2 linked regions of the Homo sapiens genome follow. The protein of the gene in region 2 purifies or fractionates together with the protein of the main gene of each other region. This does not show direct contact. Each region holds a gene or a part of one and is shown on either strand. Other genes may lie near its edges.

The links.
Region 1: the proteins of QSER1 (region 2) and TXK fractionate together in Homo sapiens (co-fractionation; one large-scale study listed by BioGRID). This does not show direct contact.

Annotation. Positions count from the first base shown.
Region 1 is NC_000004.12:48,092,714-48,096,539, forward strand, and holds part of TXK (tyrosine-protein kinase TXK), read right to left. Parts: intron 2,512-3,826; exon of another isoform or gene 2,510-2,511; coding exon 2,430-2,509; intron 1,492-2,429; coding exon 1,364-1,491; intron 1-1,363. UniProt on the Homo sapiens protein: Non-receptor tyrosine kinase that plays a redundant role with ITK in regulation of the adaptive immune response. Regulates the development, function and differentiation of conventional T-cells and nonconventional NKT-cells.
Region 2 is NC_000011.10:32,895,525-32,899,350, reverse strand, and holds part of QSER1 (glutamine and serine-rich protein 1), read right to left. Parts: intron 1-3,826. UniProt on the Homo sapiens protein: Plays an essential role in the protection and maintenance of transcriptional and developmental programs.

The sequences.
Region 1 (3,826 bases), on a different chromosome or scaffold from region 2:
ATACAGGAGAGAAAGGAACAGTGGATGGCAGGTAAGGGCAAGAGCACAGGCATGCCCTCACTACTACTGGAGGGAATGAGGATGAGAGGGCATGGGGACAGAAGAGGAGACGGAGGTCGCTCATGCCTGGTGACTTCACTTTTCCTAGTGAGGTACACAGACAGGGGATTTGCTAATAAGGCAGTGGTTAATTTTGGTAAAGGAGTCTTGAGAATGGTAAAAGTTTGAACAGGGAACAGGAATGGATGCTCACCGTGACTCTAACACCTAGTTCAGGTTAAAGCCCTCATCTAACCTCATTTAACCTTATCACCAAAACCACTCTTTCTTTTTTCTTTGGAGGAAGGAGAAAGAGGAATATAAAGGAGAAAACTCAGAACTGACATCTTGACTCTATCTCTAGCTACAACTAAGACCTTTATTGCCCCACCCAGATATTTTACCCTCACTCCTTAACCAAAATTCCAGTGAATAGCCATGTGGATGCATCCCACAAGTGGATAAAAATGTCCTTTGATATATTCCTGATACTTAGAACCAGTGTAATGGAAAAGTGAGCTCTTTCCAAAAGGAATATTTGTCAACACTTTTCATGAGAGAAATCTAAAAAAGAAGTGCATGCATGACAAGCAGTCAAAATGACATGAAAAGTTACCGTGGATTCTGAATTCTGCAATGCTGAGATAAGAAGATTCCCCATGGGCTCAGAGTGGTTCAGCACAGGTTGGGCAAGGGCTGAAGGCCAGAGAGGTGATTTTAATTGTGGTGGAACTTTCTGGGATCCTACATCTTTCCACAGATGATAGGTTTGCACAAAGAGCAATTATTGCAAACAATGTCTGGGGAGATGGGTTAAATATGCCTCTGGTATAGTTAGGCTAAATTGTAACTGTGAAAGGCTGTGTTCTCTGTGACTTTTTATATTCTCCAAACAAGAAAGAACAGAGAGTGAGAGATATAAGGGTGATTTTCTATTACAATCGTCAAAAGTAGAGAGCAGATTTATGGGGGCAAAGGGAAAGAAGCATCATTATTTAGGGTATTTGAAATCTTATTACATTTAGCCCTATGTAAATTTCCAGAACAAATGCATAATGATTGATGACTATTTGCTTCTCTGTCATCTATCATTTTTCTAACCTGGTAGAAATATAAGAAATTGACCTACCTCTTGCCCCCAACCAACCAGAAAAATGAAGAGGCATCAATAAGAAAGATAATTGCTCAAAAGATAAGTTGTACTTCAAGCTTTTAAACTATTTCTATAGGGAGATTTGCTCCTGTTGAGTGCCTGATACCAAAGATGCATTGCCCATCAAGGGCATGGCTCCCTGACTCACCCAGCTGGAAGTTCCCCTCTTACCGGCTGCATTGTGCTGGTGATACCAGATTAACTCAGGGATTGATTGAAAGGCGTGTCTTTCAGCCACATACCACTGTCCTGAGTCATTCTTTTTTATCTGATAATGTTTTATGGCAGCCTCCGTACTTCTACAATCAAGAAAATGTGAATTACTAGAAATGTGAAAGATCAATTTGGATCTAAGCCAACTCATTAAACAACAGGACTCCAGTTCTAAAACTCATCCTAGCAACACTACACTGAGAAGTAGATTGGCTAAATTCAACAAGTGCCCCCCCATGCCAAGAAAATTCCTCAACTACATTATTGGGGCCTTAGATTCAAACATAACTTCAGCCAAAGTTGTCTGAGTGACAAGACCAGTGTTCAGAAAAGTAGATCTCATAATGAATACATGTAAGTACATATTGAATATCAAGTATTGGTTAAATGAATGAACACATGCACTGTAAGCAATTGGAGATGGGAGACAAGAAGGGAGGAAAAACCAATGCCAGGTGCATTAGTTAGTAGGTTACTACTATGGGCAATTGGGGCTCAATACTTGTAGGAACCTAGGAGAGACTGGGGAACACACCTCACAATTGTCCCACTGAAGTGCAAAGAAGCTGAGATATTTATCCACCAACTCCCATTCTCTTTAACCTAGCATTGCTCCTGGGATGTTACCTCTCAGGCACTTTCAGCTTAGCCACGGGGCGCACAAGTTCCCACAGCCAGAGAACATCCTCAGGCAGACAGACACAGGAAGCTTTCTGAGTGCAAGAGACTTTTCTGCAAGTGAATCCCAGAACAGACCAAGGGATATGAGGAAAGCGCCCAACAGCGTCTACTACAACTAATCTCCCCCTCTTTACTTTATGGTTGAGAAAAGGAAGACGGGAGAGGTTAAGAAACTTATGCAATGTCACACAGAGCATGCTAGGGATATATCACGGACTGGTTGGTTTTTCTAACTTCCAGGTCAACAATCTTTTCCCTAAGCTAAGCTCTCACTAACATTCTCTATGTGATGGAGACTGTGCCAGGGATTATTTCTATAGTAACCAAAATCACAAGTGCTTACCTTCTAGCTCCCATAAATACGGAAATTGTGTAGGATCCTAAATGTCTTGAATCTCTGACAATAAATGCACCTTCTTTAGACTGCAAAAAAAATCATTTATTGAATAAGTCTATTCCTTCTTAGAAAGACAAACCTACAACTCAGGGATGAAAATCAAAGCTATATTGACTTACCATAAATAAGTGACCTGCTATATTATTAATATGAAGAATTAGATTGTCTTTACAAGTACACAAAATCTTATCTCCCTTATAGATTTAGAAGTCACACCTATAAAATAAATTGTAATTGGGACATGCATTTATAATGTACTTTAGAATACTGTTACTGATTTTTCTAAGAAAAATTCTCTATTTGAAAACCTTGTACCCTACTGCTTATTTTTGTTATATTGACCAGAATAATAGATTAAAAATCACTGTAGAATAGGAAGAACACTAAGACAGACTGACCGGATTGTACTTTGGAAGAAGAGCAACAAGGTGACAGGGAGGAACACAGCTGGGCAAGCAGGGCGTGGGGAAGGACACCAGAGTTCATGGGAAGTAGAAAGAAAGAACAGATATGGGGGAGTCTGAAAAGAAAAGCAAAAGGAACCATATTAGTTGCAGTAGGGGTATGGGAAGATAAAAAGAAGTGGTAAAAGGGAGAACATGATAGTAAATCTGAAGTTATGTTATAAATTAGATTCCTATTAACATTCTTTGGGAGATGCCAATAAAGCTGTAAATTGCTTTCAAAGAATCTTGAATGTTGCATTGTTTAGATTCGTTTGTTTGATATTGTAAAATGATTTAGCTTTACTGAGTGTGCTTATGCTCATGAAGAGGGAAAATACATCTCAGAATCTTGTCAAACCCATAGAAGCTTACACTTATAAAGTGCTGGTATTATTTACATTGTGCTTGAGAATTGCAGAACCCAAATAGCATGGTCTGACCCTCAAGGTAAACGTACTACATTAAGTAGAGTCTTCTCCTTCTCATTCCAGATATTCACCCAGATATAAGCCTTATTCCCTGGTCAAATTGTTTTAACCAAAGAATCTCTTGCAGCCATTCGAAATAATAAAATCTAGCTTTTACTATATTCCTACAATGTACAAGGGTACTGTTACATACCACAGAGGACACAAGATGTAAAAGACAAAGATGAAAAAGTAAAGTTGAATGTATTGTGTATATGTATATAATACACACAAACAAGTATATATAATATGCATATAAAGTTGCATATGTAGTGATAGCTTTATAGAAACAAAGTAGAAAGGGTACAAGCAAGATTTCCTGACTACAAAGCAATAAAACCAGAAATTAATAGCAAACTGAAAACTAAAAAAGCTCCTATCACCTAAAGATTTTTAAATTTTCTTTCTCTTTCTTTCTTTTATTTTTTTG
Region 2 (3,826 bases):
ACCCTTCATCTTGGTCCCAACTACAGGGTAGAGGGGGAATGGCATTAGAGGCTGCAACAGGAAGAAAGGGGCTTCCAATTCCCACACTGAAGCAGAGTTCTGGCTTTCATGATATAAGTATGTATTAAGCACCAACTATATGCCATGGATTAAAGTAAATACTAAGTACTACAAATATAACAGCAAAACACATAGGGGTTCTTCAAATAACCTCCATTCTGAAGAAGATACGTATTACATAAACAATACATAGGTATATATTTCTAAGAATATGAAAGTAAAATAAAATATTCTGTGAAAACATATACCATTGCACAAAGCAACAAGGAGTGAGGGTTGAAAATACTGCAGGTTTCTCACATGAGATACCTTAACAAGTCAGTCTGGGAGGTGGGGATAGGGTGAGAGTTATCTAAGTGAAGGTAAGACGATGTATGAAAACCTTAAGGTAAGAAGGAATTTAGGATGATTCAAAGAATTTAATACAGGCCAGTGCGAGGCATGGTGGCTCACGCCTGAGAGGCCAAGGCAGGAAGACTGCTTGAGGCCAAGAGTTCCCGACCAGCCTGGTCAACATAGCAAGACCTCATCTCTACAAAAAATTTAAAAATTAGCCAGGTGTGGTGGCACATGCCTGTAGTCCCAGCTACTTGGGAGGATCACCTGAGCCCAGGAGGTCGAGGCTGCAGTAAGCTGTGTTCATACCACTGTACTCCACCCTAGGCAGCAGAGTTAGACCCTGTCTCAAGAAAAAATAAAAAAGAAAATAAATTAAAAAAAATTGGTCAGTAAACGCAGAGCCATACAGAGCACATTACAATGTGTGTGTGTGTGTGTGTGTGTGTGTGTGTGTGTGTGTGTGTGTGTGACAGGTTCTCACTCTGTCGCTCACACTGAAGTGCAGTGGCACCATCACAGCTCACGGCAACCTCCACCTCCCAGGCTCAAGCCATCCTCCCACCCCAGCCTCCAGAGTAGCTGGGACCACAGGCGCACGCCACCATGCACGGCTAATTTTTTCTATTTATTTTTTGTAGAGATAGGGTTTCACCACGTTGCGTAGGCTGGTCTCAAACTCTTGGGCTCAAGCAATACTCCCACCTCAGCCTCCCAAAGTGCTGGGATTACAGGCGTGAGATATCACGCCTGACCATATTACAGATGTTTAAAAATGTGACCCTAATATGTAGGAGTAGCCATGGAAAGGCTTTAAGCAAAGGACCAAGAGCAAACTTGTAGATCTGTGTTTTTAAAAATCACTCTGGATGGTATAAGAAGAATGAATTGAAGAGAGGAAAGAAAAGGTCCAAGATGACTAAGTTAGGAAGCTACCACAGTTGTCCAAGTGAAAAATAATGGTGGCTTGGACCAGCTGGAGCAGTGGATACAAAAGAAGCAGACAGTTTCAAGACATTAGATTCAAAACAGTAGGTCTTAGTGACTGAGCACACACAACTCCCACCATCTGGCCTGGGCAACTAAGTGGACAGAGGTATGACTACTGAGATGGGCCTCACTAGAGAAGCAGAGGTGTGATGGGTGGGGAAAGCATATCATTAAGCTCAAGTAAAAGGTCAAAGAGGTAGTTGGTTATGTGATCAGGTTTTCAGAAGAGTCTGAGGTCCTGAGAAGAGTCTGCTCAAATATGGGCATCTCCACTGAGATAGTATTTAAAAGCATGGACGTGGATGTGAGTCCGCAGGAGAAAGCAAGGAATGAACAAGAAATTTATCAATCCCAAGCCCTGAGGAAACAGTAACATGCAGAGATTAGACAGAAGAGGAGTAAACACCAGTGAAGAACAGGAAAAAGCGTTGGGCCAGAAAAGTAGGAGGAAAACCAGGCAAGTACAGTGCTATGGAAGTGAAAAGGAATGTATTTCAACTAGGTAATGGTCAACGGTGACAAAGAACACTTAAATAAGGATATTAATGATGCTTAGGTTTCCAGGCCAACTCACAGAAACTCATTTCACATATAGGTGGATTACAGCATTCCACTATCTTACAATAAAGCAGTGCAGTACACTGGTTATCACATAGGCTCCAGATCTGCAATGCCCAGGTTTCAATCACAGCACCACTATTTACTAGCTATGTAGCTGTAGGTATAAATTACTTCATGTCTCTATCCCTCAGTTTCCTCATCCATAAAAGGATGGTAAAAAGAATGCCTACCTCAAAGGATTTTTATAATGAATTTTGATAAATGAATGTATGTATTCATTTATTCATGATAAATGAATTTTGATAAATGAATGTACGTGTGACTTAAAACAGCTAGCACAAATTAGTTGCTAGTGATGTAAATGACAGCTACTATTACTTACAACACGGTTTCCATGGGAAAAAACTTTCTGAACTCTAACAGTGGAAGTTTGTCTGAAATAACCTTTCATTAACTTGAGATTGTTCTTACGCCTTACAAATTATGATCTATAAGGCCTTTTCCCAAAAACCTTGAGGAAAACTCTAGATTTGAAATGTATCAAACAAATGTCCATCATATAGAAACTGACAGGTTTTAGAAGAGCTAATCATTACTTTGGTTTTTCAGAGGAGTATTTATCATACTCATTATACCTCATACTAAAAAAAAGTATGCATTAGGAATTCTAAAAACTGGTGCCAAAAGTTATTTCAAGTTAGAAAGGCAAAAAACAGGCCAGGCACGGTGGCTCACACCTGTAATCCCAGCACTTTGGGAGGCCAAAATGGGCGGATCACCTGAGGTCAGGAGTTCAAGACCAGCCTGGCCAATGTAGTGAAACCCCATCTCTACTAAAAATACAAAAATTACCAGCCTGGCCAATGCGGTGAAGCCCCATCTCTACTAAAAATACAAAAATTAGCCAGGTGTGGTTAGCTACTCAGGAGGCTGAGGCAGGAGAACTGCTTGAACCCGTGAGGCAGAGGGTGCAGAGAGCTGAGATCACGCCGTTGCACTCCAGCCTGGGCAACAAGAGCGAAACTCCATCGCAAAAAATAAAATAAAATAAAATAAATAAACCTATTTAAATACAAAATATTTCCATTCCCTTACTTTCTGGTGCATATTCAAATACGAACACATCGATTATCACCATAAAACAGCCTGCCTCTTCCTGTTGTGACCAAGATATAAGTATCAAGTACAGAATGCGGCAATGGATCTGCAGACTCTTGATGACCTTCTTATTTCCCAAGCTATGCAAAGGTATTTACAACATCCAAAACTGCACCCCAAAAGGTATTTCCAACTGCGTGGTGTTCAGCAAAGGACATGTTCATTCATTTAGTTCCTAAAACGAACTGAAATTAGCATAAATAAATGAAGATTTATATGGCCAGTCCTTATCCCTGTACTTTCCAAGTACCTAGCAAGTACTCTGAGAAATATTCAAAAATCTTTCTATAAGCCCCATTTAAGGTATAATGCTGGAGTTTCCCACTCTATTTTTCCACTGTTAGTACAATAAAACTACCTAATAACTAACAGAGCTGTTGTATTCAAAAAAGTATTGTTTCAAACTCATGAAAAGCTGTTTATCATGTACCTTCCCATCAACTGATGAAAATGATGTATTTCAAGACCAAGAAGGCATAAAGTAGGATGTTAGATCCCTGTCGGCAACAACTGAATGTCATTACCATCTGTCAGCTTCTGAATAGGTTACAGGAAACAAGGTGACAGACAGGCTAATTCTTTATGGATAAGTATCCATATTACATCATCACAACTAGTACTCATTTGCACCTTCACAAGAAACTGCCACAAAGGGGAACAAAAACATTCAACTGATATGTGCATTATGAAAAAGCTTTTTAAAATGGTATAAAAATATAAA